3 linked regions of the Homo sapiens genome follow. The protein of the gene in region 2 interacts with the protein of the main gene of each other region in a biochemical or structural test. Each region holds a gene or a part of one and is shown on either strand. Other genes may lie near its edges.

Region 1 (7,430 bases), on a different chromosome or scaffold from region 2:
ATATATATATACACACAACCATGTAAATACCGGGACATATAAGAGATAGTCAGAAAATCTCCTAAGAAGCTGTCCTGTTGCTGATGGCTAGCTCCAGCAAGCCGGAGCAGGGGCCTACAGTGGGAAATTCATATTCTGTGGTATACCCTTTCAACCATTTAAATTTTTAAAAGTTTACCAGGTCATGTTTTATTTATATAACAATAAAATCTAATCAGGATAGCCATAAATGCTATATCAGAATTAATCACTGTGAAATAAACCAGTGAAATATGATAAGTGGATACAAGTCTAGCCCAAAGCTACCTGACATTAGGTAGTCCATGGAGCCTCATTAGGATGTAATTCTGGAAATATTTAAGAGTTCATAGATTATCACATTTTCTACTTTCACAGACCGTAGAAGGTTGGGAAACCTGCCGGGCACGGTGGCTCACACCTGTAATCCCAGCACTTTGGGAGACCGAGGCAGGCAGATCAGTTGAGATCAGGAGTTCAAGACCAGCCTGGCCAACATGGTGAAACCCAATCTCTACGAAAAATACAAAAATTAGCTGTGCATGGTGGCACACACTTGTAATCCCAGCCACTTGCTAGGCTGAGGTGGGAGGATCGCTTGAATCTGGGAGGTGGACGTTGCAGTGAGCCAAGATAGCACCACTGCACTCCAGCCTGGGCAACAAAGCGAGACTCCGTCTCAAAAAAAAAAAAAAAAAAAAAAAGGTTGGGAAACCCTAGGCTGCAAATGTCTAATGTTGGCTAATCCTTTGTGCATTTTCCATATAGATAAGTCCTAGCTTAAGTAACCAAAAACTAGTTTTAAAAAAAACAAGGCATGTATCATGTCTCCATCCCCCAAGACCACGCTCCTTTCAGCCTGAGGCAAGTCAAAAAGCCCCGTCAAAACAACCAAAGATACCTACTTTTGGAATTCCCACTCTCTGTTGTCCAATGGACACACCTGTCGTGTTTTGAGCCAGCGAGAGATGCAGTGGAAGTGAAAAGCATGCTGAAAGAAAACATATATTTTATTAAAAATAACTCTATGCAGGCTCAGCCATCGAGCGACAACAGGTCCCACAGGGTAGTGGCATGGGTGACATATAGTGGGCAAGAAAAGAAAAGAAGACAACGAGAGGCAAAAGTTCAACAACTGATTATATCTTGGTTAGATGCAAGGGTATTTCCAACAAAGCATTTGTTAGAAATGTCATTACTACTAAAGGAAATCATTCAGGAAGCACAGGAGTATGTGCCAGCACTGAGCTCTCTTCTATTTAAGAGAACGTGGAATGTGGCTCCTTGGTCCCATTCAGCCTGTAAGGGGATACTTCCACTTTCTTTGGGAAAGGAGGCCCCTCATCAATGCAGATTTCAAATATCCCCATTCTGGGTCTCTAGCTTCCCTCCCACCCTCCTGCCCCTGGAGAATGCGACCTGTAGGAGCAGAGCCTTCTCCCCAGCCCTTGGTAGAGAAGTGCATGGTCACTGCCGCCCACCCAGAACTGAGACGGGCACTTCCCCAACCTCCCCACACCCAGCTCAGCTCTGGTCAAAGAAACTTTATTTCTAGATTTATTCACAGACATATTGATATTACAAGAGCTCAGTACTTCACGTGCCTTTAATGGGTGAGGGACTTTGTCTTAGGGAATGAGATAAAAGAAAATTGGGGTAAAAGGAAGTATTCTTATGAGGGACAAACGGCACACAAGCAGCCTAAAGAGCATCAAAAGGCTTATTTCATAATCAAGACAAGAAGTAAAAAGACAAGAGTATCAAGAACACTGGTAACTGACAGGGAGCTAGAAGTCTGCTTAGATTTGGGAAAAGGACAATCTGCATGCAGTTTTTTGGCGTGGGCTCATGACATGCAGATGCTAATCACAATGCTTCTGCAATGAGCACTTCTCCCCCTGCTCATGTGCGTATTAGGACAGACGCAGCAAGTGCTTCCTTCATTTCGTCTGTGATTGGTGCACTGTGGTGGGGCACGGGCAGAAATTACTCACCCTAACAAAACAACAAAAGCTTTACAAGCTTCATTTAATAACAACTGAAATCTGGTCGGTACGTCTCCCAAAGTATGTATGGAACTTAAGGGATTATATAATATGGATTATTATCTTGTGAAATGTTTTTTGACAAAGACAAAAATATAATTCAGTAACTAAGAGTGGAATCCACAGCTAGTACACTAGGGATACCCAAGAGGACAAATATTCTCTTAGAGTGACAGCCTTTTGGAAGATCCCTTTTCAGCTGACTCTTGTATAACTCACTGTGAAAAAGAGAAAGAGCAAAATTTCCAAAAGGCAGAAAGCAGAGACATTTTTCTTAACCATCAGGTGTTGGGGTCGGGCTCACCGAAGGGTATTCGACAGCTTCTCCCTCTCCCACCTCACCCACTGAGCACTTTGCAGCAGTACGGTGTCCTGGTAGAGCCCAACTAAGTCAGAGCATACCACGCGCTGGGGAAAAGGGGGCTGTAAAGGAGGTGTCAGGGAGGTGACAGCACCCCTGAACATTTACTAAGATGTATTAATGGATATATTTAGCGGTCAAAGTACAATTTACAGAAGATAAATTTATAGTACTTGACAGTTTACAGAAGATGTTGACATGTATTACCTCATTTGAGGCCTCACATCAACCCTGGCAGGCAAGCATGACAGATATTTTTATCTTCATTTTACAGACAGGAAACTGAAACCCAGACAAGTGACTTGCCTAATTCATGGAGCTGGTTTGTAGAAGACCCAGAACTAGAACCCAGGACTAATCCAGAGCCTTCTGCCACACCATGCTGGCTCTCTTCTACGGCAGGCTCTCTCAGAGAATCTCTCCTTAGCCAAATTTAAGGGGATGTTCACTCTCTTTTCTTTCCACATAAAGGAACATGGTTCTTAGTATATGTCTGTATGCCAGAAAGGGCAAAGAGCCCAATATACTTCCTTTATCCCCATGAACGATTAAAGCTCCCCCATGGCCAACATGGTCTATTGTGAGCCTGGCCAAAGGGTCCCAACAAAGATGGAAGAAGGTGTACCCGAAAGTGCGGGTAGGGGCTGGGCACGGTGGCTCACGCCTGTAATCCCAGCACTTTGGGAGGCCGAGGCTGGCAGATCGCCCCAAGGTCAGGAGTTTAAGACCAGCCTGGCCAACATGGCGAAACCCCATCTCTACTAAAAATACAAAAATTAGCTGGGTGTGGTGGTACACACCTGTAATCCCAGCTACTCGGAAGGCTGAAGCAGGACAATCACTTGAACCCAGGAGATAAAGGTTGCAGTAAGCCGGGACTGCGTCACTGCGCTCCAGCCTGGGCCACATAGTGAGACTCCGTCTCAAAAAAAAAACAAAAAACAAAAAACAAAAAAAAAAACAAAAAACCAGTGTAGGTAGGAAAAAGAGTTGCAACCCAACAGGAAAAACTACTGAGAACACCATCTACACAGTAACACCTCTACCTCAAATTTGTATTTATTTAGATTTTTTTTTTTTTGAGACAGAGTCTCACTTTGTCACCCAGGCTGGAGTGCAGTGGTGTGGTCTCGGCTCACTACAAGCTCCACCTCCCAGGTTCACGCCATTCTCCTGCCTCAGCCTCCCGAGTAGCTGGGACTACAGGCGCCTGCCACCACACCCGGCTAATTTTTTGTATTTTTAGTAGAGACGGGGTTTCACTGTGTTAGCCAGGATGTCTCCATCTGCTGACCTCATGATGCACCCGCCTCGGCCTCCCAGAGTGCTGGGATTACAGGCGTGAGCCACCGCGTCCGGCCTATTTAGATTTTTTTTAACAAGCACTTGTGCTTACTATGTGCCGGGAGTTGTTTAATCACATTTTAACATAAATCATCTAATCCGGATTACAATTTTATGTGGTCCACTATCAGCCCCATTTTATGAGGGAACCCAGGATTGGAGACGTTAAATGCCTTGCCTAACGTCACTTAGCAAGTAAGTCACAAAGACAGGGAATGGTGGTCTGACTCTAGAATCTCTTATCCCTGTGTCATGCTGGGAACTGTGAGTATTCTGTCCCCATGACACAGGAGGCCCTGACAAGACAATTTTAGCTCATGTGACTGGGACTTTACAGCTTAAAGAATGAATTTTTAACACATGCTAGAACTAACATATTTGATATTTGTTATCCTTCACAGCTGTCACACTCTTGGAAGGCCATTCAGTCCAATAAAGCTACACAAAACATTTCTGGCATAAGCCATGTTAAAAAATAATCTTATCTCAGTACATACGCCACACTTAAAACACACATACACAGAGACTTCAACACTCAATTTACTCATCAAACTTAGTTCCATTAGACACCTGGTCTTTAAAAAAGCCTGTTTCAAAGGTACAAAGTTCTACCACGAGAATATTCCAAAGGGTGCATGTAGGTTTTGAAGGCAATTCCCATAGATGAAGCCCCAAAATACTGCTAACAAAATTGGGTCCACTTTATAATTAAGACAAATAAGTGCCTCTTTGCAGTAACTGTAATTTTTACCCTGTAACAGGTGAATAGTATTATGATTTAAAATCTTTTTTACTATTTGTATACCTTTTGGGAGAAAGGTGGACTAGTCATTTTTTTCCCTAGTTATTTTCAAGACTAGCAAAGCAGGAAAAGTGGAAATATGTTTACAAGCCATGCTGACAGGTAAAGATGCTTCCTTACGTTACAGACTCCCCATGCGACAGTACACTCTTCTGAAGTAGCGGACGCCTGGTTAGCTTGACATTCTATGCCTGTGGGAACAAGAGCAACAGGATCACTGGACCTTGGGAGCAGCAACGTTTCAATCTATAGCAGCCAAAACAATTCTCAAGTGGTTAATTAGCCATAATTGTTTTTTAATGAATGTGGGAAAGGAAGAACAGAGAAGACAGAGATAACAGTATGCTTTCTGACGATTTCCTATCCTTGTTTAAAAAGAGTAACAAATGGGAAATGCACATCTCACTCCCGTTGCCCAGGCTACAGTGCAGTGGCATGAGCATGGCTCACTGCAGCCTTGACTTCCTGGGCTTAGGTGATTCTCCCTCAGCCTCCTGAGTAGCTGGGACTACAGGTGCGTGCCACCACACCAGCTAATTGTTTGTATTTTTTGTAGAGATGGAGTTTCACCATGTTGCCTAGACTGAGTTTTTTTCCTTTTGAGATGGAGTTTCCCTCTTGTTGCCCAGGCTGAAGTGCAATAGCACAATCTTGGCTCACTGCAACCTCCGCCCCCCGAGTTCAAGCGATTCTCGTGTCTCAGACTCCCAAGTAGCTGGAATTAACAGGCGCACACCACCATGCCTGGCTAATTTTGTATTTTTAGTAGAGATGGGGTTTCTCCGTGTTGGCCAGGCTGGTCTCAAACTCCTGACCTCAGGTGATCCGCCCACCTCAGCCTCCCAAAGTGCTGGGATTACAGGCATGAGCCACCGCACCTGGCCTGCAATGAGTTCTTGACTGAGATCAAGATCTGATGGGTAAAGCACAACTGGGGATAAATATTCACAGAACAAGAATTACTAATGCATAACTTGCTTTCTCTGATCATAGTAACTAAATGGAGTCTCCCTTCTGAAGAATAAAAAGCTTCAGGAGAAACTATTTAATAGGGGAGAATTACTTCAAACTACTACAGGTGAAAAATAGTAAAACTATGGCTGGGCGTGGTGGCTCACACCTGTAATCCCAGCACTTTGGGAGGCTGAGGCAGGCGGATCACGAGGTCAGGAGTTCAAGACTAGCCCACCCAACATGGTGAAACCTGTCTCTACTAAAAATATGAAAAACTAGCCAGGAGTAGGCCAGGCGCGATGGCTCACTCCTGTAATCTCAGCACTTTGGGAGGCCGAGGCAGGCACATCATGAGGTCAGGACTTTGAGACCATCCTGGCCAACATAGTGAAACACCGTCTCTACTAAAAAAAAAAAAAAAAAATTAGCTGGGCGTGGTGGCGGGTGCCTGTAGTCCCAGCTACTCAGGAGGCTGAGGCAGGAGAATTGCTTGAACCCAGGAGGCGGAGCTTGCAGTGAGCCAAGATTGCATCACTGCACTGGAGCCTGGGCGACAGTGCAAGACTCCGTCTCAAAAAATAAATAAATAAAAATAAAAATAAAAAAATAAATAAAAATTAGCCAGGTGTGTGTGGTGGTGGGCGCCTGTAGTCCCAGCTATTCAGGAGGCTGAGGCAGAAGAATTGCTTGAATCCGGGAGGCAGAGGTTGCAGTGAGCCAAGACTGCGCCACTGCACTCCAGCCTGGGTGACACAGTGAGACTCTGTCTCAAAAAAAAAAAAAAAAAAGTAAAACTATTAAAAAAAACAAAACTAGATGTTAATGGGCATGTGTGGTTTTAGGGGAAGAGATACCATGATAATACCTTTTTCTTTTCACTCTTCGAAAATGTGGAAAGTGGGCCGGGCATGTTGGCTCACACCTGTAATGCCAGCACTATGAGAGGCTGAAGTCAGGAATTCGAGACCAGCCTGACCAACACGGCAAAACCCAATCTCTACTAAAAATACAAAAGTTAGTGGTGCATGGTGGTACATGTCTGCAATCCCAGTTACTTGGGAGGCTGAGGTAGGAGAATTGCTTGAACCCAAGGGGCAGAGGTTGCAGTGAGCCGAAGTTGCACACCACTGTACTCCAGCCTGGGCAAAAGAGCAAGACTCTGTCTCAAAAAACAAACAAACAAACAAACAAACCATAAAAGGCTGGGAGTAGTGGCTCACGCCTGCAATCCCAATGCTTTGGAAGGACGAGGGTGACGGATCACTTGATGTCAGGGTTCGAGACCAGCCTGGCAAACATGGCAAAACCCCCTCTCTACTAAGAAGGCAAAAATTAGCCAGGCATGGTGGTGGATATCTGTAATCCCAGCTACTCAGGAGGCTGAGGCAGGAGAATCACTTGAACCCAGGAGGCAGAGGCTGCAGTGAGCCGAGATCACACCACTGCATTCCAGCCTGGGTGACAGAGTAAGGCTGACACACACACACACACACACAGAGAAAGCAAAGCACTTACTTTTGCTAGCCAGATTCACACTACAGAGTAACTTGGTTTGCCAACTGATAAAAATAAAGAATTGGGGCCAGGCCCGGTGGCTCACGCCTATAATCCCAGCGTTTTGGGAGGCTGAGGCGGGTGGGTCACGAGGTCAGGAGATCGAGCCCATCCTGGCTAACATGGTTTCTACTAAAAATATTTAAAAATTAGCCAGGCGTGGTGGCGGGCACCTGTAGTCCCAGCTACTCAGGAGGCTGAGGCAGGAGAATGGTGTGAACCCGGGAGGCGGAGCTTGCAGTGAGCCAAGATCGCACCACTGCGCTCCAGCCTGGGTAACAGAGCGAGACTCTGTCTCAAAAAATAAAAATAAAAATAATAAAATAAAATAAAAATAAAGAATTGGGTCAGG
Region 2 (7,860 bases):
TTAAAATGCAACCAGTATAAATGAACATTTCAGAAGTGGGAGAAAATCCACCACTAATCTCAGCTAGACAAACTTCTTAAAAATGAAAAAGCCTATTCACACAAAATTATATGTAATGACTGTAGTAACCAGTTTATTACACAGATTAATCATTCTTGAAAGTACAAGCTCCAGAGGAGCAATTGGGTCTTTAAATATACACAAGTATTTCCATCAAATGAATTTTCACCCTTACATCCAAATAGACCTAAGCGGTTAAAAACATAAGAAAAATAAGAGCTATTAGCTATGTATTAACTGAGAAACCACATACAAACCAAAGAATATGGAAGAGAGAAAGAAGGGCTGAAAGGCCAAAGGTTGAAGGGGTAGGGAGATGTAAAAGAGTTGGGAACAAAGCCCATCACACTTGATGTACTAATAGCTCCAATCCATTTAAATGTTGACCAGTTAAACTTAGACCTTAAAATGCAGGATGTGGGTAGAGTTTAATCTGGTTGGTCATAACTTTCACCTAAGACGTAGCTCCTTCGGAATAAAATGAATACAGACACAGCTTCATGTTCTTCACCTTGCTTTTCATAACTGTTTTGAGTTTAAATGGATTCCACTTAAAAATAATCTCCTATAGGTGAGTGGAGCCTTTTCTTTCCCATCCAAGCACACACCATACCCACCACCCCCCTCACACCTTGCTGTTATCCAAATTTAAGTCAATAAGAAAAGCTTTTAGTCTCACACCTAGGTAATGCCTGTAGAACTGGCTTGTCACACACACACTTCTCTGCTAGGAGGCAATGTTGGTACAGAAGTACAGTATTTCTAGTTTGTTGTTCCAAGTATGTACAACACGCAGCACTGCTGTATCAGGTAAACATGTGCACAGGGGAAGATGAGGCGTGGGCTCATAGAAAGCAGTCAAATGGAAATCAAAAGGACTTTCTCTTTCAGAGTTCCCCTATCTTTATTTGTAGAGGTTATCCAATAATTTCTTTAATTACATCGCATACTTCTGAGTCCATTCCCGAGCTATTCTGTTGTACCTGTACACACAAAGAGAAGCTTGGCTTAACATAGGTGTGGAGTCAGTAAGCAACAGATTCCATTCATTATCCCATCAAGTAACTTGAAGAGAGTAGCTTATAGGACATTCAAGGAAAGGCCCCTTTCTATCCCAAATTTCTGATAAGGATTAATTCAATGATAATGGGAAGGAGCTGTAAAATGTGAAAGTCTCCTTTAATTGCTACTTATAGAGGGTTCTGATTAAATTTTAGTATTTGTTGGCATATACCTTATTCCATACTTGATTGGCCTATTTCTACAAAAGATGTCCACTCAATTCATTCATTTAAAGTACTTGAAATTATATGATTCTACATTACATAGTTCTTGAACTCATATACTAATAATGATTAAACCGACAGAAGGCTGGGCATGTTGGCTCACACCTGTAATCCCAGCACTTTGGGAGGCTGAGTCGGGTGGATCACTTGAGCCCAGGCGTTTCACACCAGCCTGGGCAACATGATAAAACCCTGTCTCTACAAAAAAATACAAAAATTAGCAGGGTGTGGTGGCGCATGACTATAGTCCCAGCTACTCAGGAGGCTGAGGTGGGAAGATCGTTTGAGCTCAGGAGGCAGAGGTTGCAGTGAGCTGAGATTGCAATACTGTACCATAGCCTGGGTGACAGAGTGAGGCTCTGTCTCAAAAAAAAAGGGGGAAAAAAAACCAAACTTTCCTTTCATATCAATAAAACAATTGGTTCTGGTAGAACTAATTTCAACAATTTGGTTGACAAAATGAATGGGTTTATTGCTTCAGAAGAACATTTGAATAAAGTAAGCAGAGCAAATGATTCTATAATTCTCCTATTAAAAAACGGGTGCTAGGCCGGGTGTGGTGGCTCACGCCTGTAATCCCAGCACTTTGGGAGGCTGGAGCAGCTGGATCACTTGAGGTCAGGAGTTCCAGACCAGCCTGGCCAACATGGCAAAATCCCGTCTCTACTGAAAACACAAAAATTAGCCAGGCATGGTGATGTGCGCCTGTAATCCCAGCTACTCAGGAGGCTGAGGCACAGGAATCACTTGAGCCTGGGAGGCAGAGGCTGCAGTGAGCCAAGATTGTGCCACTGCATTCCACCTGGGCAACGGAGCAAGACTCTGTCTCAAAAAAAAAAAAATTAGCTGGATGTGATGGCATCTGCCTGTGGTCCCAGCTACTTGGGAAGCTCAGATGGGAGGACTACTTGAGCCTGGGAGGTTGAGGTTACAGTGAGCTGTGATTGTGCCACTGCATTCCAGTCCGGGCAACAGAGCAAGACCCTGCCTCAAAAAAAAAAAAAAAAAAAAAGGGGGGGGGGTGGGGGTGGGTATGCTGGCCTTGCACGGTAACTCATGCCTGTAACAGCAGCACTTTGGGGGGCTGAGGCAGAAGGCCTGCTTGAGGCCAGGAATTAGAGACCAGCCTGTGCAACATAGTGAGATCCTGTCTCTACAAAAAAAAAAAAAAAAAAACAAATTAGCCAGGTGTAGTGGCATGTACTAGCAGTCCCAGCTACTGGGGAGGCTGGAAAGGTGTAGTGGCATGTACTAGCAGTCCCAGCTACTGGGGAGGCTGGGGTGGGAGGATCACTTGAGCCCATGAGTTTGACACTGCAGTGAGCCACGATTGTGCCACTGTACTCCAGTCTGGGCTGAAGAACAAGACCCTGTCTCTGCAAAAAAAAAAGTGGGGGGTTAGAGGGTGGGGGCAGTGCAGTTTGGGAAAGTTCTGTTCAACAGTGTTCAACATTACTCCATGATGACTTGGGAAATGACTTCTGGTAAGCATTCAGACCCACAATTCTAAATATCGGACAAAACAGTTCTCTAATCAAAAAAATTTGACAATAAATTCACAAATAGGAAAAAGCAAGAACCAACTACTGTTAGAATATCCCATTCCCAGTGTTACCTCCACTAAAAACAAAAACGTATCTATGCCTCTCTAATCCACTAGAACTCAAGTTGGAGACGTGAGTCTTGCTCTGTCGCCCAGGCTGAAGTGCAGTGGTGCAATTTCAGCTCACCGCAACCTAAACGTCCTGAGTTTAAGCAATTATCTCAGCCTCTCGAGTAGCTGCGATTACAGGTGCCCGCCACCATGCCCGGCTAATTTTTGTATTTTTAGTAGAGACGGGGTTTCACCCCGTTGGCCAGGCTGGTCTCAAACTCCTGACCTTGTGATCTGCCCACCTCAGCCTCCCAAAGTGCTGGGGTTACAGGCGTGAGCCACTGCGCCCGGCCCTAAAAGAACTATCCACCCTCTCCTATCTAGTTCCTCTTATAACTTCACTGAATACTACATAAAACAGATGTTATTAGTGCTGGGCATGGTGGGCATGCTTATAATCCTAGCTACTCCAGAGGCTGAGGTAGGGAGTTTGAGACCAACCCAGGCAACACAGCAAGACTCCATCTCAAAAGAAAAAAAGAAAAGAAAAAATGCTACTAGAACACTTTTAGCTACTATCTCTTTTGATATCTTGACCACTGTTCAATAATTCATAGTACAATTCTAAAATACCCAAATTCTACATCAAGTTTTGTTTTTAAAAGAAATTTGGGGCTTTCACGTCTAATGGCATTTATTTGCTTTCTTCCTTTAGATTATGTCAAATGGTAGGAAATCAATTCTCTTTTCCCATTAATTGACAAATACCTATGGCAGGCAAATGGGCACTTGATGAAAAGTGCTTTATATATCAAAAGCCAAGCATAAGGCATTAAGCTGTTGAAAAATATACCATAGGAAAGTTTTTGTATGGGTGTGGTGGCTCACACCTGTAATCCCAGCACTTTGGGAGGCCTAGGCAGGCAGATCATTTGAGGTCAGGAGTTCGAAACCAGCCTGGCCAACATGGTAAAAGTCTCTACTAAAACTACAAAAAAAACGAACCTGGCGTGGTGGCCTGCGCCTGTAATCCCATCTACTCGGGAGGCTGAGGCATGAGAATCACTTGAACCCAGGAGGCGGAGGTTGCAGTGAGCCAAGACTGCACCATTGCACTCTAGCCTGGGTGACAGAGTAAGACCCTGTCTCAAAAAAAAACAAACAAAAAAAAAAGTTTTTGTAGACAAGAGGAGTCACGTGAAACAATCAGGGATAAGACTGGCATCATCTACTTATAATAATACTCAATGCATATATTTCTCTTTTCTAGCCCCAGGAGAGTATATTAGGACTTCACTTTAAATATCTGGCCGATATTCAGCCCTTAAACAAGAAAGATTTGTGACAAACATCTCCATCCCACCACAGATAACTTTCCATCTTGAGGCCATACTTACTTTTCTCTATCTGTTTTGTAGATCCGAGCAATCTCAGGCACTAAAGGATCATCTGGATTGGGATCACACAACAGAGAACAGATGGACAAGAGTACTAGAATGAAAAAAATCATATAAATTAGCAGAGGATCAAAGCAAAGGGTTGAGAGAAACATGAGACGCCAAAACATGAGAAAATTCTAAGAATTTATACTGTAATGCCTAGCAGCTTTGTAAGTTTTACTTAACTTTATATTAACAGTAACCAACAAGGATTATTATTATTATTATTATTTCTTTTTTTTTTAGCAGAATTGGGGTTTCACCATGTTGGCCAGGCTGGTCTCGAACTCCTGACCTCAGGTGATCCACCCACCTCGGCCTCCCAAAGTCCTGGGATTACAGGCTTGAACCACCATGCCTGGCCTAATTTTTGTATTTTTAGTAGAGATGGGGTTTCGCCATGTTGGTCAGGCTGGTCTGGAACTCCTGACCTCGTGATTCACCCGCCTCGGCCTCCCAAAGTGCTGGGATTACAAGCGTGAGCCACCACACCTGGCAAATAGTTTTTTTTATTTTTTATTTTTTGAGACGGAGTCTGGCTCTGTCGCCCAGACTGGAGTGCAGTGGCGCGGCGCGGTCTAGGCTCACTGCAAGCTCCGCCTCTCAGGTTCACACCATTCTCCTGCTTCAGCCTCCTGAGTAGCTGGGACTACAGGCACCCGCCACCACGCCCGGCTAATTTTTTGTATTTTTAGTAGAGACGGGGGTTTCACCGTGTTAGCCAGGATGGTCTCGATCTCCTGACCTCGTGATCCGCCCACCTTGGCCTCCCAAAGTGCTGGGATTACAGGCGTGAGCCACTGCACCCAGCCTACCAACAAGGATTTTAAGAAGCTTAAACAGACTTTAGGTTAGGTCATTAAAAAATAAAAATGAAGGCTGGCTGCAGTGGCTCATGCCTGTAATCCCAGCACTTTGGGAGGCGGAGGGGGGTGGATCACGAGATCAAGAGATTGAGACCATCCTGGCCAACATGGTAAAACCCCATCTCTACTAAAAATACAAAAATTAGCTGGGCGTGGTGGTGTGTGCCTGTAGTCCCAGCTACTCAGGAGGCTGAGGCTGGAGAATCGCTTGAACCTGGGAGGTGGAGGTTGCAGTGAGCCGAGATCGTAGCATTGCACTCCAGCCTGGGCGACACAGCAAAAAATCCATCTCCAAAAAATAATAATTATAATAAAAAATAAAAAATAAAATAAAACAAATAGCAGAAAATTAATGTTAAATGACATCTTGGTCTCCCAGATACAAATATAAGCCCCTTTGTGCAAAGTCTCACAACAATCCCATGATGTAAGAAGAGTTGATATGACTGTCTTTATGCCTGAACTCCTAAGGGAGCTGGCCCAGACAGGTGCAGTGACGTGTTCAATGTCCCTGGCTAGTAATTAGAATAGAATTAGAACTTTGTCTAAATTCTAGACCAAGAACATTTTTCAGATCCCATAAAGTTCAATTTTTTAGAAGCCCATATTCAAGGATAAATGGCTTTCAAAATTCCAAGTGCGATGGCTCACTCCTGTAATCACAGCACTTTGGGAGGCCACAGCAGAAGGATCGCTTCAGGCCAAGAGTCTGAGACCAGCCTAGGCAACAGAGTGAGATTCTGTCTCTACAAAAAATAAAAATATTAGCTGGATGTGGTGGCACACTCCTATGGTCCCAGCTACTCAGGAGGCTGAGGTGGGAGGATCACTTACGCCCAAGAGGTTAAGGCTGTATTGAGCTGTGTTCACACCACTGCACTCCAATCTGGGTGACAGAGTGAGACCCTGCCTCAAAAAGAAAAAAAAAAAAGACAGCCACACTACTGAATATTCTTAGCAAAAACGACAACCATAAAATCCAACAATCACTGTTTTCCAGTGGCAGGCACCACATTCAGACAATTGTTTTGTTTAATTTTCAGTTGAAAACAATTCAGTCTAAATCAAGAACATAAATGCAAACACTTGCCCCTAAATGGGGATGGTCATACACTCATTACAGAGAATACAACATACTTCTATGAATGTCTCAAATTCTCTTCAGTGACAATTTAGAATCTCATCTAAGCCATTTCCTCGGTGACAACCTGGGATGTAGCAGACAAATCTCAATAGTGTAATTTCCTTTGTTCAAATCTGTCATTAACTTATGTTTTAAAATATTTATTTATTTATGTATGTATTTATTTAGAGACAGGGTCTCACTCTGTCGCCCAGGCTGGAGTGCAGTGGCATGATCTTGGCTCATTGCAGCCTAAACCTCCTGGGCTCAAGTCATCCTCCCACCTCACTCTCCAGGTAAGACTACAGGTGAGTGCCACCATGTGTAGCTAATTTTCTTTGTATTTTTTGTAGAGGTTGGGTTTTGCCATGTTGGCCAGGCTAGTCTTGATCTCCTAGGCTCAAGTGATCCACCTGCCTCGGCCTCCCGAAGTGCTGGGATTACAGGCGTGAACTACCACACCCGGCCATATCTATCATTAACTTATGCATTCCTTACTGAATGCAAAGGGGGCATAAAGTCACTGATTACATTAAGTTCAGTAGCCTCTGACAAAATAAATTTAAATCCTTCTATACTAATGCTAATAGAGCTCAGCCATCTTTCTTTTCTCTAATAGGTGTTCTGTACCAAGAGATAATAACTCTCAGCCCATTTTACTCCCAACACATAAATTCAGCAGGGAAAGGATTCGCTCATATTCCTACCAAATCTATCCTATAGAGATCAAGGGCTTCTGAGAAGTAAAGAAATAGTTGGCATGCCCTATTCAGTTTGGTAACAAAAATGCTATTTCCTTGCCTTAAGAGTATATGAAAAGTTTTTTTAAAAAATCAGGAGAGATGTTTTCTGACTCTTCATTCCTGTTACCCACAATTCTGGCAGCTGGCATTCCAAAAACATTTTCCTATTGTCAGGTGTCATCACCTGAAGCCCTCTTCAAGCATAGAACATTCTAACATCAATTAGGAAAGACTTCATGTATTTCCTGGAAATGACAACAGGGAAGTTAGAAATTTTTGAATGTTCCTTTAACTTATTCTTCTAAATATTCTAATAAGTCAACTTTAAAGGACAGGTTTTAAAGAAAGGGCTTTTCTTTCTTTCCAGGAAAGGAGAGTACTGGCTATCTGGACCTTGTGAAAAGATTTTTAGTACACTACTTAGCTTCTTGATTTCATGAAGAATTCATTTTGGTTTCTAATATACTGATATGGTTTGGATCTGTGTCCCCACACAAATCTCATGTTCAACTGTAATCCCCAACGTTGGAGGTGGGGCCTGGTGGGAGGCGACTGGATTATGGGGGTGTATCCTTCATGAATGGTTTAGCACGACCCCTTTGGTGCTGTTCTTGTGATAGAGTTCTCATGAGATCTGGCTGTTTAACAGTGTGTGGCACCTCCCCCATCTCTCTCTTGGTCCTGCTACTGCCATGTGAGACAGGTGGCTCCCCCTTTGCCTTCTGCCATGAGTAAAAGCTCCCGAGGAC
Region 3 (7,366 bases), on a different chromosome or scaffold from region 2:
ACCACAAACAAACCTAGAAAACTGAAGATAGTAATGGCTATACAGTTTGTGTCTAGCTTTCACTTTCCTCAAAGGTTTCCTTGTGTATTTCTGTCGTGAAAAGAGTATTTGGAGCTTGGAATTCACTGGCTTGGAAGAAAATAAGAGTATTTGGAGAGAAAATATATTTAGGCTGTGCTTGCTTTGGCAGCACATATACTAAAATTGGAACCCTACCAAGAAGATTAGCATGCCCCCTGCACAAGGATAACAGCTGGATGTTGAAAGGAAAAGAGGAGTTTTTTTAATAAAGTATGTGAGATATACAAAGAGTTAGAAAGAAAATGCAAGGTAGGTTACACCATTAAAGATGTGGATGCAGGTTTAGAATAGAGAAAGCCCAAGTGGATAGTTTGGATAGATTGGCTCTATTTTTGTTAGTCAGTAAACAAAGGTTTACTGAGCACCTTTGAGCAGACACTCTACTAGTACTAGAATAATGCAGTGAACAAATATATACAGTGCTTGCCCATACACATTTATCTAGGGAAACCATTTTTTTTTTAATTGTGCAAAATGTTGCAAAGCAGACATGTTAATTTGCTTCCAACCTACTAGGCCTGACCCTAGCTCTCATGACCAGTTTGAAAAACGCGAGACTCAGTCAATTCAGGGATTTCTTAAGCCATGGTCTTTATTTATTTTTATTTATTTACTTTTTTGGCAATGGATTCTTGCTCTCTCTCCCAGGCTGGAGTGCAGTAGCGAGATCTCAGCTCACTGTAACCTCTGCCTCCCCGGGTTCAAGCAATTCTCCTGCCTCAGCCTCCCAAGTAGCTGGGATTACAGGCACCTGCCACCATGACCCGCTTATCTTTGTATTTTTAGTAGAAATGGGGTTTTGCCATGTTGACCAGGCTGGTCTCGAACTCCTGACCTCCGGTGATCCACACACCTCAGCCTCCCAAAGTGCTGGGATTACAGGTGTGAGCCAATGTGCCTGGCCAGCCATAGTTTTTAAACTGGGGTAAGTGTGCCCCTGGGTGTTTACAAAGACTTACCAACAGGGAGGTGGGAGCTCAAATAGTTTTAAGGAATTAATAGTCTCACTCTCAACTTCCATATGTAGCTTCTCCCAAAACTGATCTGCTTGAAAACAAGAACTGTGAAGGTTGCCAGGGTTGTTCTGTCTTCTCATCTCCCTTTTCACAATGGTTCTCTGTCTTCCCTTAAAAGACAGGCTCACCTCTCACCTATCATGAGTTTTAAAATCGTATATTTCTCTGGGTGTAGAAACCTCCTGGATGATTTGAAATAATCGATCTGTATTAGTGTTGAGAAAATGAATGACTCTAATATCTGGATATAGGGTTGCCAGGTAAAATACAGAACACCAAACTGAATCTAAATTTCAGATAACTAATGAATAACTTATTAGTATAGCTAGGTGCCAAATATTGCACAATACATTCTTATACTGGAAATGCATTCATTGTTTATATTAAACCAAAATTTAACTAGGTGTTCTCTGTTTTAATTTGCTAACTCTGTCAACTGTATCTGGATACCAAAAGTTCAGTGGTTTCTAAACCACCAATTTCAACAAAATTGAGTTGTCTACTGATAAGTAATTACATATTTTGATTAGAGATCACTAAATGATTTTTGGAATATAAAACATATTTTTTAAATTGTGAAAAAATTGCCATAATAATGTTTCTTCTGGGCCTATCTACTTATCTACTTACTTCTGTGAAATAAGGTTTACAACATTTATGTCTGTAGAAATGAAAAAAGGAACAGAATCTGTGCTGAACCCTAACATATTATAGCTATAGGTAATATTCATGACTGCACACTTGAAAAACTTGCTTAAAATACAAGCTGCCACCCCCTTAAATTGTATTTGTAATGCAGTTATTAACATTTACGATATTTTTATATTGTATTGACCAATTATGCTTTAAAAGTAATGAAAACAATATCAATGATAATGTAATCAAAGAGGATTTTTTTTTTTTTTTTTTGAGATGCAGTCTCACTCTGTTCCAGGGCTGGAGTGCAGTGGCACTGTCTTGACTCATTGCAACCTCTGCCTCCCAGGTTCAAGTGATTCTTGTGCCTCAGCCTCCCAAGTAGCTGGGACTACAGGCGTGCACCACCACACTTGGCTCATTTTTGTATTTTTGGGAGAGACCGGTTTCACCATGTTGGCCAGACTGGTCTTGAACTCCTGACCTCAGATGATCCACCCACCTTCGCCTCCCAAAGTGCTGGTATTATAGGCGTGAGCCACCATGCCTGGTCAAAGAGGAATTTTTTTTTTTTTTAACACTTAGATCCTTATGATCCCAGAGAAAAAAATAGATTTCAAGTTCTAATATGTATTTGTTTCAGAGATATGTGACAGAGAGATGATAAAAGATGTTCAGTACAAACATGTATTAACATTCTGTAGGGGAATTGGAATGTTCAATGACAAAAGGCAATGATAAAATATTTTCAGTTATTAAAGATGACCTGATAATTGCTTCATGGATGATCATGTATGTCAAATTACTATGGTATTAGGATCCATCAAATACATTTAAAAGAGTGCTCTATCAATTTTTTCTGAAAATATCTATGTTTACATTTTGTAGATTCTTGACATGTACAAGAGCTTTATGTTTTAATGTTAAGTTAAAAATGGGCAAGGGAATGCAGAGCTTTTCAAAATTCTTCTGGTGAGTACATAATCAAAAATGTGTAAGGCCTGCAAATTATTTTCAATAATCTCAGGAGTGAGTTGAAAATGGCTTAGAAAGTCTTGATTGAAGCAGACTCAAATGTGGATTAAAATCTCCATATGATAAATACACTTAGTCTTTCTGAAATAATTCCAACTGGAACTTCAGCTGCTATGGACAGCCAAGTCCACCTAAACAAGAGGATGCCTCAGCTCAGTCCAATTGCGTGCAGAATGCACTGGATGCTGTTTCCACAGAACGATGAAGTCTCCAATAATCTTTATGGGCTCTGTCTCTGGTTGGTAATTGTCTTTGATCTACTGGAAGATAGAAAATCAGATGAGCTCTCCAAATCCATCTGTTACCCTGGTACGGATGGCTCTCAGATAAAGTTGCTTAAATTTACTGCTTAGAGAACGTTGAGGGAAATATGGCAGTGCAATTAGACTCAAAGATGTCAGGTTTCCCTGAGAATGGCACTGCAACTCAGAAACCTGCCCTGTGAGATCAAAGGCTATAAAGGAGGGATTTTTTTAAGTAGCCAACTCCACCCTACTTATTAAAAAAAAAAAAAAAACAACTCACCAAACCAAACAAAAGTATTTCCATACAGAAAATTTACCAAGCCATTTCAATCTTTAAAATGGTAAAATAAACTGCAAAGGAGAACTGCATGATTTTTTTCACATACCCCTACATTTCCTTTCACCTCTTACTTTCTTGATCAGAACAAAAAGTAAAAATAAATAGAAATATTTCACAAAGTTTCGATTTTTTTTTTTTTAAATGCTGGACTTCTGCAGCTATAGTAGAAGATTGAAAAACCTAACCTTTTTACGTGTAAAGTGTATGGCGGATGGAGGGTGGAGAACAGGGCATATTGACCTTTTCCAGGCAGGCTAAGCAATGATCGTCCTCTCTATATGGGTTGTTATCAAGATTTCCTCTGACCCACGAGCAATGAAGCAAATGTCTTTCAGTAAATGCCGCGAAGATATGCCACGGTTAAGAGTCATGCTTTTGGGTCATGGAAATCCCCGAGTGGGTTTGCCAGGCCACTGATTAAGAGGAAGTGTGTGTGGTTATTACCGCTGGAGTTCCCCTAAGTCCTAAAAGGAAAGCACCAGTGCACATGCAAACCACTGGGAGGAGTGCGGAACGCCTGGTACAGATAGGGGTGGGGATTTGGGTGACGCATTTAAAAGACAGCGTGAGACTCGCGCCCTCCGGCACGGAAAAGGCCAGGCGACAGGTGTCGCTTGAAAAGACTGGGCTTGTCCTTGCTGGTGCATGCGTCGTCGGCCTCTGGGCAGCAGGTGGGCAAGGAAGGCTGGTGTGTGTGTGTGTGTGTGTGCGTGTGTGTGTGTGTATGTGTGCGCGCGCGCGCGCCTCCCCTGGTGTAAGAGATGTGCCAGCGGCTGGCCGAGGGGCGCTTAGGGCTAGAGCCCGGGGCGCTGCAGAGGTTGAGAGTCAGTGGGTGGGGCGCAGTTATCAAACACCAGGGCCCAAAAGCAGGCTCTAGATAGGTTCCAGGTGCTCAATTTCTATTTCACGTTTGGAGTGAGCCAGTGGAATTGTGAAGTTGTGGCATTTTGATTCGGTTGCCAAGAGTTATCACTGGGCCTTTGCAGGTGCCAAATAAATTTCAGGACAGAGCCTAAGGCAGAGCTCTGGCACAGGAAGGAAGTAAAACGTTTAATGAGCAAATGGACGCATGTTTCCAAGCGGTGGTAGGAAGACAGCAGTTTTTGGTTGTCTTCCTGGTGATCAGCATGGAAACCTAGTAGTGCTCTTACTCTGATCAATACATTGTCGAAGGCATGTACCTGATGCTAACGTAACAATAATATTAAATATTGACTTTATTTGCTATTATTTATTGCTAACATTAAGTACTGCTACCTGCTATGTGCTAGGTTTGTCTCTGAAGACTTTACATGTATTTTTCACGTTTAATTATCATAATCTTAAGAAGCAGGTACCATAATTATCTCCATTTGACAATGAGGAAACTGAGGCTCTTGGAGATTTACTTGTGCAAGGTCATGCTTCTGGTTACCGGACTGCTTGGTATTGGGCACCCCCGATGTCTGACTCCAAAGCCTGATACTAATCAATCACTGAGCTGACTCTGTGGTCATTAATATAAAATTGATAGAAGTACTGTGGTCACTCAGGTCTCAGTCATTTACTTCTTCAACGGGAAGTCTTCGTGTCTACCCCATATACCAAGCTCTGCAGATGCTATGAGTGGGAGGGCAGGTACAGAGATGAAACATATTAATAGTTGCCATTCTAAAAGAGCTTACTGTCTAGCGGGAGGCAGAAAGAAAAGGCACACTTGCCCTCCAGTGTCAGAAAAATGGATGTGCTGCATGCCCAAAGGGTAGGGATGCCCAACAGCCCTGGGACTGGGGAGGTTGCCTTCTTGGTAGGTTAAATGAATGAGTCAGAAGAGGAGAGGCTGGGGACTGAGCCAATCTGAGAAGGAACCACTAGAAATGAAAGAAGAATCCCAAGAGCTTGGTATCAGAGAAGCCCAGGGAATGGGACATTTCTAAGAGGAAGTGTGTCCCAGTGTCAGATGCAAACATTTCCATTGGTTTTAGCAAAAAAGCCATTGGTGTTATTAACACCGAAAGCAGTTTTAAGTGATGCTGACTTAATGAGTAAATGGGAGAGGGAAAATGGAGACATTAACCATACACACATGTCCAGTTTGCTTGGCTGTGAAGAGAAGGGGTGATACAGGGTAGTTGCTAGAGTGGAAAGTGTGGTTGAAAGAGGATTTTTTTTTTTTTTTTTTGAGACAGAGTCTCACTCTGTCACCCAGGCTGGAGTGCAGTGGTGCAGTCTCGGCTTACTGCAACCTCCACCTCCCGGGTTCAAGCGATTCTCCTGCCTCAGCCTCCTGAGCAGCTGGGACTACAGGTGCATGCCACCACACCCGGCTAATTTTTTGTATTTTTTTTAGTAGAGACGGGGTTTCACCGTGTTAGCCAGGATGGTCTCAGTCTCCTGACCTCGTGATCCACTCGCCTCAGCCTCCTGAAGTGCTGGGATTACAGGCATGAGCCACCACACCCGGCCGAAAGAGAATTTTAAAAATTTCTTTCATTTGAAAGTTGAGATAGATTTAAGCATGGTTATGTGAAAGGAAAAAGGCCAGTCGAGAGTGACAGGAATGAGAGTTGAAGCAATGAGGGGATGGGATTAAGAACAAGATTTCTGAGGCAGTAGGACAGTGTAGGATCCCATAAGGGGGCAAGTCTTTAACTGAGACAGCAAGTAGGTTGTGAGCCAAAACGGCTTGGATATGAGAACGTGAGAAGGTTCCTGCTCAATGATGTCTCTTTTCTTTGAGAAACAGAAGGCAAAGTAATTGACTGAAAATGAGATGGAGTGCAGTGGAGAAATTTGAGGAAGGTGTTGAAGGTTTAGAAGAGGTGCATAGGGCATGGGCTAGGGAGCTGAGCCTATTGCTAAGGGATGGCAGAGGAGTCTTAAGTGATGCTGGTCCCAGTCTGCAGGGTTGCATCTAGGTGTTGGAAATGATTAGGACAGAGGTTGAAGTGATCTAGGGTTGACATCTTGGCATATTTGTGTATATTTATTGTATAGTTGTTGCCTAAATTTCCACAAATATATGCCTTGCTGGAGTGCAGTGGTGTGATCTTGGCTTACTGCAACCTTCACCTCCCGGGTTCAAGTGATTCTCCTGCTTCAGTCTCCTGAGTAGCTGGAAATACAGGTGCGTGCCACCACGCCCGATGGTTTTTTTTTTTGGATTTTTAGTAGAGACAGGGTTTCACCATGTTGGCCAGCCTGGTCTCGAACTCCTGATCTCAAGTTATCTGCTTTCCTTGGCCTCCCAAAGTGCTGGGATTACAGGCGTGAGCCACCACGCCTGACCTAAAGCTTCTTTAGGATAAGATTTGTGTAAGGGGTTTGCAAACTCAAATGGAGGTGATATAAATGAGAAAAACTCTCAGTGTCTCTCTTTCTCTCTCTCTCTCTTTTTTTGAGACAGGGTCTTGCTCTGTCACCCAGTTTGGAGTGCAGTTATGCAGTCTCACACTGCAAGCTCTGCCTCATGGGCTCAAGTGAACCTCCTGCCTCAGCCTCTCAAGTAGCTGGGACCACAGGCAGGTGCCACCATGTCTGGCTAATTTTTGAGTTTCTTTGTAGAGATGGTGTTTTGCCAAGTCACCCAGTTTGAGGCTGGTCTCAAACACCTGGGCTCAAGCAATCCATCTACCTCAGCCTCCCAAAGTGCTGGGATTACAGGAGTGAGCCATGGCATGAGGCCTTGTGGGGTGTCTCTTTTAAATGAAAGCATACTCTGTTTACGTATTTGATATGAAGGAATATCCTTCCTTTCCACAAAGACAAAAATTATCCTATTTTTCTCAAAACATATGTCCTTTTTCTCTACTTTTCATTTTTGTTACTTTTGATGGACACATGTGTTACATTGATTTCACTTTCTCATAATTCTGCTGTAAGAAAAACAATAGTGCCAGTTCAATGACAAATAGCAACAGTCTGTTATTGCTAGACTGTTACTGTTAGTGGAGACTACCAGAACAGTCAGTCCCAGTGTCAGGGAATCAAAGAGAACATGTTCCCTCTCTAAAGGGCACAGCTGCTGCTCAGCT

What was found. The genes of interacting proteins can lie anywhere in the genome.
Region 1: the proteins of UBE2D2 (region 2) and RBX1 form a complex in vitro, tested with the Homo sapiens proteins (50 studies listed by BioGRID, with this or other methods).
Region 3: the proteins of UBE2D2 (region 2) and BIRC3 form a complex in vitro, tested with the Homo sapiens proteins (9 studies listed by BioGRID and IntAct, with this or other methods).

What each region holds. Positions count from the first base shown.
Region 1 is NC_000022.11:40,961,378-40,968,807, reverse strand, and holds part of RBX1 (E3 ubiquitin-protein ligase RBX1), read right to left. Parts: intron 4,762-7,430; coding exon 4,691-4,761; intron 1,010-4,690; coding exon 924-1,009; intron 1-923. UniProt on the Homo sapiens protein: E3 ubiquitin ligase component of multiple cullin-RING-based E3 ubiquitin-protein ligase (CRLs) complexes which mediate the ubiquitination and subsequent proteasomal degradation of target proteins, including proteins involved in cell cycle progression, signal transduction, transcription and transcription-coupled nucleotide excision repair.
Region 2 is NC_000005.10:139,619,939-139,627,798, reverse strand, and holds part of UBE2D2 (ubiquitin-conjugating enzyme E2 D2), read right to left. Parts: intron 4,432-7,860; coding exon 4,338-4,431; intron 1,044-4,337; coding exon 998-1,043; 3' UTR 1-997.
Region 3 is NC_000011.10:102,313,548-102,320,913, forward strand, and holds the start of BIRC3 (baculoviral IAP repeat-containing protein 3), read left to right. Parts: upstream 1-3,936; 5' UTR 3,937-4,024; intron 4,025-7,366. UniProt on the Homo sapiens protein: Multi-functional protein which regulates not only caspases and apoptosis, but also modulates inflammatory signaling and immunity, mitogenic kinase signaling and cell proliferation, as well as cell invasion and metastasis.